2 linked regions of the Homo sapiens genome follow. The protein of the gene in region 1 purifies or fractionates together with the protein of each later gene. This does not show direct contact. Each region holds a gene or a part of one and is shown in the gene's direction. Other genes may lie near its edges.

The links.
Region 2: the proteins of POTEJ (region 1) and VARS2 fractionate together in Homo sapiens (co-fractionation; one large-scale study listed by BioGRID). This does not show direct contact.

Annotation. Positions count from the first base shown.
Region 1 is NC_000002.12:130,631,700-130,635,514, forward strand, and holds part of POTEJ (POTE ankyrin domain family member J), read left to right. Parts: intron 1-790; coding exon 791-957; intron 958-3,815.
Region 2 is NC_000006.12:30,920,423-30,924,237, forward strand, and holds part of VARS2 (valine--tRNA ligase, mitochondrial isoform 2 precursor), read left to right. Parts: coding exon 1-14; intron 15-245; coding exon 246-327; intron 328-642; coding exon 643-719; intron 720-807; coding exon 808-883; intron 884-1,166; coding exon 1,167-1,269; intron 1,270-1,502; coding exon 1,503-1,573; intron 1,574-1,693; coding exon 1,694-1,819; intron 1,820-2,027; coding exon 2,028-2,132; intron 2,133-2,283; coding exon 2,284-2,352; intron 2,353-2,475; coding exon 2,476-2,554; intron 2,555-2,681; coding exon 2,682-2,809; intron 2,810-2,930; coding exon 2,931-3,083; intron 3,084-3,815. UniProt on the Homo sapiens protein: Catalyzes the attachment of valine to tRNA(Val) in a two-step reaction: valine is first activated by ATP to form Val-AMP and then transferred to the acceptor end of tRNA(Val).

The DNA of each region.
Region 1 (3,815 bases):
CTTTAGGAGCTTTGGACCAATCATTTTATCTTTCTTGGTTTTAGTCTGATTATCAATAGATAATGTGGCTAAAGAAGATAGCTTCTTATTCTGTGTATCTTCCAGCTAGATAATTGTATGGCTATTCAATGTGAAATTTGGGGAGCATCTCATTTTCTGGAATTCCATGCTTGCACGTCAGCAGTTTCACTCTGCTTCTTGTGTTTTGGCAAACTTTGGCTCCCATTTTCAGTGAGCACCATCATGTTTTTGATATCTCAGCAACCAAATGAAAAAAGAATGCTCAAAGGCAGTGGGGGAGAAGAATATCTTAGCGCAGAAAAGGGCAAACTTCCTTTCTATTCCTGAAGCCGCACAGTGTGTCATCCTCTAAATCTGACTGTTTAATGTAAAATCTAGGTGGTAAAGACAGAAGACACATTTTGCATCTTTGTCTTTTTATTTGCGTGTTCCCATGAGTCAAATGGGGTAAATACATACATAAGATTCTGAAGAGTGATTGAGAATAAAAGCACAAAATGAAGGAGGGCCCTTTTTGAATTTTGGAAAATTCTGTTTCATTCATTGAAACAGAAATGAAGCAAACTTTACAAAAATTTCTGTGATATATTAATGAGATGATAATTACATCTTAAAGTTATATGGTAATATTTCTATATATATGATCAAATTTAAGTGTGAAATATTTTTAATGACTAAAATAATGACAAACTGAGTCAATTGATAGAATCAATTAAAAAGGTTCTTTTTATTCAATAAAGTGATAACTATCCTTAATATCCCACTCAAGGTTGAAGAAGAAATGAAGAAGCATGAAAGTAATAATGTGGGATTACTAGAAAACCTGAGTAATGGTGTCACTGCTGGCAATGGTGATGATGGATTAATTCCTCAAAGGAAGAGCAGAACACCTGAAAATCAGCAATTTCCTGACAACGAAAGTGAAGAGTATCACAGGTAAGCCTATGGCAACATTGAACAGGAGATAACTATGTGCTGTCAAACTAACCCTAGTTTGGGCTAATATTCATGATGAACAAATTTTATAGTTTTACTAGGATATTCAGCCTTGCCCATTAATCAGAAAAATGAAAATCAGCGAACAATGAGTTACCATTTTTCCAGTCATTAATTTATTTGAAAAATAACCAGTATTGGCAAATGTGAGGGAAAAGGCATTTTCTTTTCTTTTTAGTGAACTTTTCTTTTAGTTTCAGGGGTACATGTGCAGGGTTATTATATAGGTAAAGTGTATCATGGAGATTTGGACGGCAGATTATTTCATCAGCCACATAATAAGCAAAACACCAAAAGTTAGTTTTTTGGTCATCTCCCTCCCGCGACGCTCCACCTTCAAGTAGACCCTGGTGCCTGTTATTCTCCTCTTTGTGTCCATGAGTTCTCATTATTTAGTTCCCACTAATGAGTAAGAATATGTGGCATTTGATTTTCTGTTCCTGCATTAGTTTGCTTAGGATAATGGCCTCCAGCTCCATCTGTGTTGCTGCAAAAGAAATGGTTTCATTGTAAAAGACATTTCATACACTGCTGGTAAATACATTTTGAACATTAATTTAGTAGCATATTCACAAACACATGTATAACAATAAGGATATATAATATATGTAAAGGATATTTGTGTAGATTTGTTACATATATACTTATGTATAAGGACATTTATTACAGCATTATTATATCAAAAAGATGGATCCTTATCAATAGGAAATTATCATTATCAAAAGTAAATCATTACCAATAGGAAATAGCTCAATTTTCATACCCAGAAATTAATGTAGTATGCAACCATTTTTTACAAGTGAGGTTAGATCTAGAGTATACTGATTATTTCACAATTAAAGTGTATTTAAAGCATCAGTGATGACATCTTAAGAGTTCTTGTTAAAATTCTTGTAATATTTCCTGTGTTGCAAATGGAAGCTACATGCTATATTGACGCTGTACCTTGTTAGCAACAAGATTGCTAGTTATTAAATTTTTATTGTCAGTGCCTGAGTGCTGAAATATTGGACCCTCAATCTGAATATTGCCAAGGGATTGTACATGGGGATCTGTATTTAATATAAACGTTTCAGTATATTGGGTAAAACTTTTATTAAAATATATCAAAGGATCTTTCATCTGCTAAACCAGGAGTTGGCCAGCTTTTTCTGCAAAGAGCCAGTTAGTAAATATTTTAGGCTTTGTGGACTATATAAATTAATTTATTTTTGAGACAGGGTCTCACTCTGTTTCCCAGGCTGGAGTGCAGTTGTGTGATCATGGCTCACTGCAGTCTTGACTTTCTGAGCTCTAGTGATCCTCCCACCTCAGCCTCTCTACTAGTTGGGACCACAGGTGTGCAACATCACACCCAGCTAATTGACACTATGGACTGTAAAGTGAATAAGCATGGCTGTGTTCCAAAATACTTGACTTACAAAAACAGGCAGTGGGCTGGATTTGGCCCAAGGTGCTAATTTGCTGACCCTTGTGCTAAAAGGAAGGTGCTGCAAGTGAAGTGACTCTTATTTGTAAAAGTGCCCTGCGTGTGTGAAATTATCCTTCCTTTGAGAAAAGGATATATTTCAGTATTCACCTCACCATATTTTTCCACAGTGACTTCATATAATTTTAAAAATTTCATTTATAAAATAAGATTATTGTCTGCATTTCTCCCACTTTATTCCTGTTAATAGAACCCAGTATTTTGCTGTGATCAATTACTTTGTATATTTGATGAGTATCAGTTGTCCTAGAATTGGCTGATTTTATCAAGCAAGAAATACTCTCCTTGAAACTTTTAGTATTTCTTGGTCTTTATGCATAAGCATGAATAAAATGATAATCAGCTTATGTGTAATCTAGAAATGTTCAAGGCGACTTTTAGTTCTATAGTTTTAAGAATTTAACACCTCAGTCTGGCATTTTTAATGCCACATGTGTATAATTTTTATAACCTTTAAAATATATTATTGTTATATAAAATTTGAAAACTACACCTGTTATATAAAACTTGAAACTATTTGTCTATTACTTTTCCATGACTGTGGAAGAAAATTACAACATTCTCAGTCATGACTCCTAAGCATGATGTCCTTAAAAGAACTGTCCACACTCACGAACTCAAATTTTCTTTTCATTCACTCTTAATCTCACACCGGCGTCTTCAATTTCAGCAGTCCTCCAACATTGTTTTTCCTCAAGATTATCACAATTTTTTTCTGTAAATTATGCATTTTTTCTTACACCTCATTTTATTTAATCTGTCAGCAATATTTGAGCCAGTGGAGGGCGTCTCCTCCCTAACGGCGTCTTCACTTGGCTTTCAGGACCTCACTCCCTCAAGCTTTTCCTCCTGCATTTCTAGTCCATTCATCATGGTCTGTTTTGCTTGCTCCTCCTCATCTTTCTCCTTTTGGACATTGTTGTTTCCCAGGGCTCAGTCCTCAATCTTCTTTCTCCTGACTTTTTCTTTTTCTTTTTTTGAGACGGAGTTTGACTCTGTCCCCCAGGCTGGAGTTCAGTGGTGTGATCTCAGCTCACTACAACTTCTGCCTCTTGGGTTTAAGTGATTCTCCTGCCTCAGCCTCCTGAGTAGCTGGCATTACAGGTGTGTGCCACCATGCCTGGCTAATTTTTGTATTTTTAGTAGAGACAGCATTTCCCCATGTTGGCCAGCCTGGTCTCAAACTCCTGATCTCAGGTGATCTGTCTGCCTTGGCCTCACAAAGTGTTGGGATTACAGGTGTGAGCCACTGCACCCGGCCCCTCGTGACTTTTTCTATTATGTATATGCTAGTGATTTCCAAATGTAT
Region 2 (3,815 bases), on another chromosome or scaffold:
CTGCCCATCTGCAGGTAACCTCATTTTAACTCCTTTACTAAGGGCTACCCCAAAAGGGAATGTATGGAGCTTAAGGGTGACAATAGGATGGGCTCTGCACCCCTCCGTTAGAATACGAGCTCCGTGTCGGTTTTATTCGCTATTGTATCCTCAGTACCAAGGGCCTGGCATGGCATGGGGTCTTGTGCCCCTGGGAGAAGTCACAGGGCCGGAAGAGCAGTGGACTCACCCTGTCTCTCTTTCAGCCGTTCTGGGGATGTGATAGAATACCTGCTGAAGAACCAGTGGTTTGTCCGCTGCCAGGAAATGGGGGCCCGAGCTGCCAAGGTGAGGCTGCAGTGTAGGAAGGACTGGGGCCAGGGGTTGGGGGAGCTCCCTGAGAATTGGAATGAAGAAATGGGAAGCAGGAGACCTCCTGCCCTGAAGACCTCTCCAGCTGTGGTAACTGAGAGGATGTGTGGGATGGAGGCTGGGCGGCCCAGCAAGGGCTGGCTCATATCCTTACTCAAGCCCAGAATCTTGGCAAGAGGCTTGGGAGGTCCTTTCTGAGTTTTAAAATGACCTCAGAGGCCACTCGTCCTATCTGTGGAGGTGCGGCCGTGCAGGAAGGGCAACATTGTCTAAAGTCCCCTTTCTCTCCAGGCTGTGGAGTCGGGGGCCCTGGAGCTCAGTCCCTCCTTCCACCAGAAGAACTGGCAGCACTGGTTTTCCCATATTGGGTAAGGGTAGGGTAAGGGGAGCTCTTGTGGAGATGGGGAGGGGGGACTGACTGGTTATTCTAAGACTTCACGAATGTCCTCCCGGCAGGGACTGGTGTGTCTCCCGGCAGCTGTGGTGGGGCCATCAGATTCCAGCCTACCTGGTTGTAGAGGACCATGCGCAGGTGGGTAGGAAGAAGCACCCGGAGGGCCGAGTGTGGCACAGAGCACCTAGCCCAGGAGTCAGAGCTCCGCAGGGCCAAGTCCCGCTCCTGCCTGGTCATGTGCTTCATGCTCATAGTCATGTAACCTTCTGCGCGATCAAGGCTCCCTGAAGTGGCATTTCTTTATCTCACCCCTGGGGGAACCTGGCCACTCTAAGACCACATGAGGACGTGAAAACCAAGTGACATTTACACCTGTCAGCTGTTCTTCCTCACTCTCCCCAACCCCTTCCTACTTTTGCAGGGAGAAGAGGACTGTTGGGTGGTTGGGCGGTCAGAGGCTGAGGCCAGAGAGGTAGCAGCGGAACTGACAGGGAGGCCAGGGGCAGAGCTGACCCTGGAGAGGGGTGAGTGCCTGAGCTGGGGAGGGATGTACAGGGGAGCGGGGGCCTGGGCATCTGGGCCTTTGAGGGGAACAGATCCCAAGATACAGAAGGTAGGGTCAGGAAAGTTGGGAATGGAGCCAAAGGGGACAGCCCTGGTCTCTGGGGGTGGGGGTTGGCCTAGAATGGTGGCAGCAGTGGTCTGAGGTCCTAGAAGCCAAGGTTCCAACTGTCCCCATTCTTTTTCTGTTTCCCAGATCCTGATGTCCTAGACACATGGTTTTCTTCTGCCCTGTTCCCCTTTTCTGCCCTGGGCTGGCCCCAAGAGGTGAGGTGGGTTGAGAGGGCGAAAGTGAAGGGGAAACGATAAGGAAGGGATGGCTGGGCCCCCACAGAGGCTTGAGGGGGGCCTGGGGCCTGGGCCTCTTACTGCTCCTCTTCCCCCTAGACCCCAGACCTTGCTCGTTTCTACCCCCTGTCACTTTTGGAAACGGGCAGCGACCTTCTGCTGTTCTGGGTGGGCCGCATGGTCATGTTGGGGACCCAGCTCACAGGGCAGCTGCCCTTCAGCAAGGTAAGAGCCCTTCAGTGCCCTGCCGCTTTCTGTGACTCCAGTGTTCCCCAAACCTTGTCCTCCCTTCTAACCCCTAATGTGGTCCTTTCCACGTTGCTGATTCCTTTTTCCTAATTCACTTCCTACCCTACCCCCAAAAGTATGGAGGCCAGAGATCCCAAGGCACCTCCAAGGAAACCCCCCTCTGTTGACCCCTCCCTGCCCCCAGGTGCTTCTTCATCCCATGGTTCGGGACAGGCAGGGCCGGAAGATGAGCAAGTCCCTGGGGAATGTGCTGGACCCAAGAGACATCATCAGTGGGGTGGAGATGCAGGTGAGGACGAAGCACCCACTAGAGGGACAAGGTTTGCAGGGTTTGCAGGAGAGAGGAAGGCAGGCTGAGGGAGGAGTGAGGCCAGCAGGTGTGACCCTTATAGAGGCAGGGCCTTCGACCTGGGTCGTGAATTGCCCCCTTCCATCCCCAGGTGCTGCAGGAAAAGCTGAGAAGCGGAAATTTGGACCCTGCAGAGCTGGCCATTGTGGCTGCAGCACAGGTGAGTCATCGCTGCCTGCCCCCCACCAGCTCTAGCTCACCACCTCTGGCTTCCTCTGCAACCCAGGTCCTGGCCCTGCAGCCACAAAGGCATCTGCCACCCTTCTTCTTCCTCTGGTTGCAGAAAAAGGACTTTCCTCACGGGATCCCTGAGTGTGGGACAGATGCCCTGAGATTCACACTCTGCTCCCATGGAGTTCAGGGTAAGCCTGGGCGAGGGGTGTCGGGGTGAGCAGAGGGCAGCGGGCACCTGTGCAGGGGCAGGGCAGGGGCAGGACTTCTGGTGCTGCTGCCACCTACATGCAGACTACCTCGATTCTTCCCTTCCAGCGGGCGACTTGCACCTGTCAGTCTCTGAGGTCCAGAGCTGCCGACATTTCTGCAACAAGATCTGGAATGCTCTTCGCTTTATCCTCAATGCTTTAGGGGAGAAATTTGTGCCACAGCCTGCTGAGGAGGTAAGAGAAAACAGAGGTGCTTGGGAGTAGGGTAGTCAGGTGTCAGAGGGCCAAGGTGGCATCTGGAAGGAAAGGAGGCAGGGGAGGGGGAGTCAGGCCATCCTGCCCCCTCTGCCTGCAGCTGTCTCCCTCCTCCCCGATGGATGCCTGGATCCTGAGCCGCCTTGCCCTGGCTGCCCAGGAGTGTGAGCGGGGCTTCCTCACCCGAGAGCTCTCGCTCGTCACTCATGCCCTGCACCACTTCTGGCTTCACAACCTCTGTGACGTCTACCTGGTGAGTGAGGCTGGGGGAGGCTTGGTATTCCCATGCCTGCTTCTAATTCCTCTGGAAATTTCCAAGGCAGAGAGCTCTGGAGTTAATAAGTTCCCAATTGTCCCCTCAGTTAGGAGAGGAGAGGAGACGAGGGAGTCTCAGTTCCCCTCTTCCTGGGACTGGTTTTGGCAGTGCAGCCCAGGCACTGTTGCCTGCCTGTCACCTGGGGAGAGGAGGAGGAGGGAGACTTCTAGAAATGTCTGACAAGTCGGTGTCAGAAGGCAGAGGGGAATTTTTTCAGTCCCTGTAGTTGCTGAGTTTGGCCCATGGGCAGGCTGCGTGCTGAGAGAGGCCTGGGAGGGACTAGCAGCGGTCTTTAGACCAGGGGTTCTCACGCTGTCCTACGTCCAAAGCACCTGGAGGGCTTGTTGACGGTGGATCCCCCCCGCTCCACTGCCACCCCAGAGTGGCTCCTTTAGCAGGTTGGGGTGGGGGTGGGTGGTGTAATGAATATTCATTTCTTGTCCCAAGTGGTGCTGCTGCTGCTGGCTGTGGACCACTGCCCTAGCTCAGCCTTTTAAAAACCTCTGTCCCCTGTTGATAAGCAAAAAACTCAATGATTTTTTTCCCTAAACTACATGTTTCCCTGGAAATCCTGTCCCTGTGTACTGCAGAGAATTGCTGTCCTGGAGTCCCCTTCTTTGTGCTGAGTGTGTCCTGGGACTGTGGATCATATCAGAAGTGCTAAGTGCT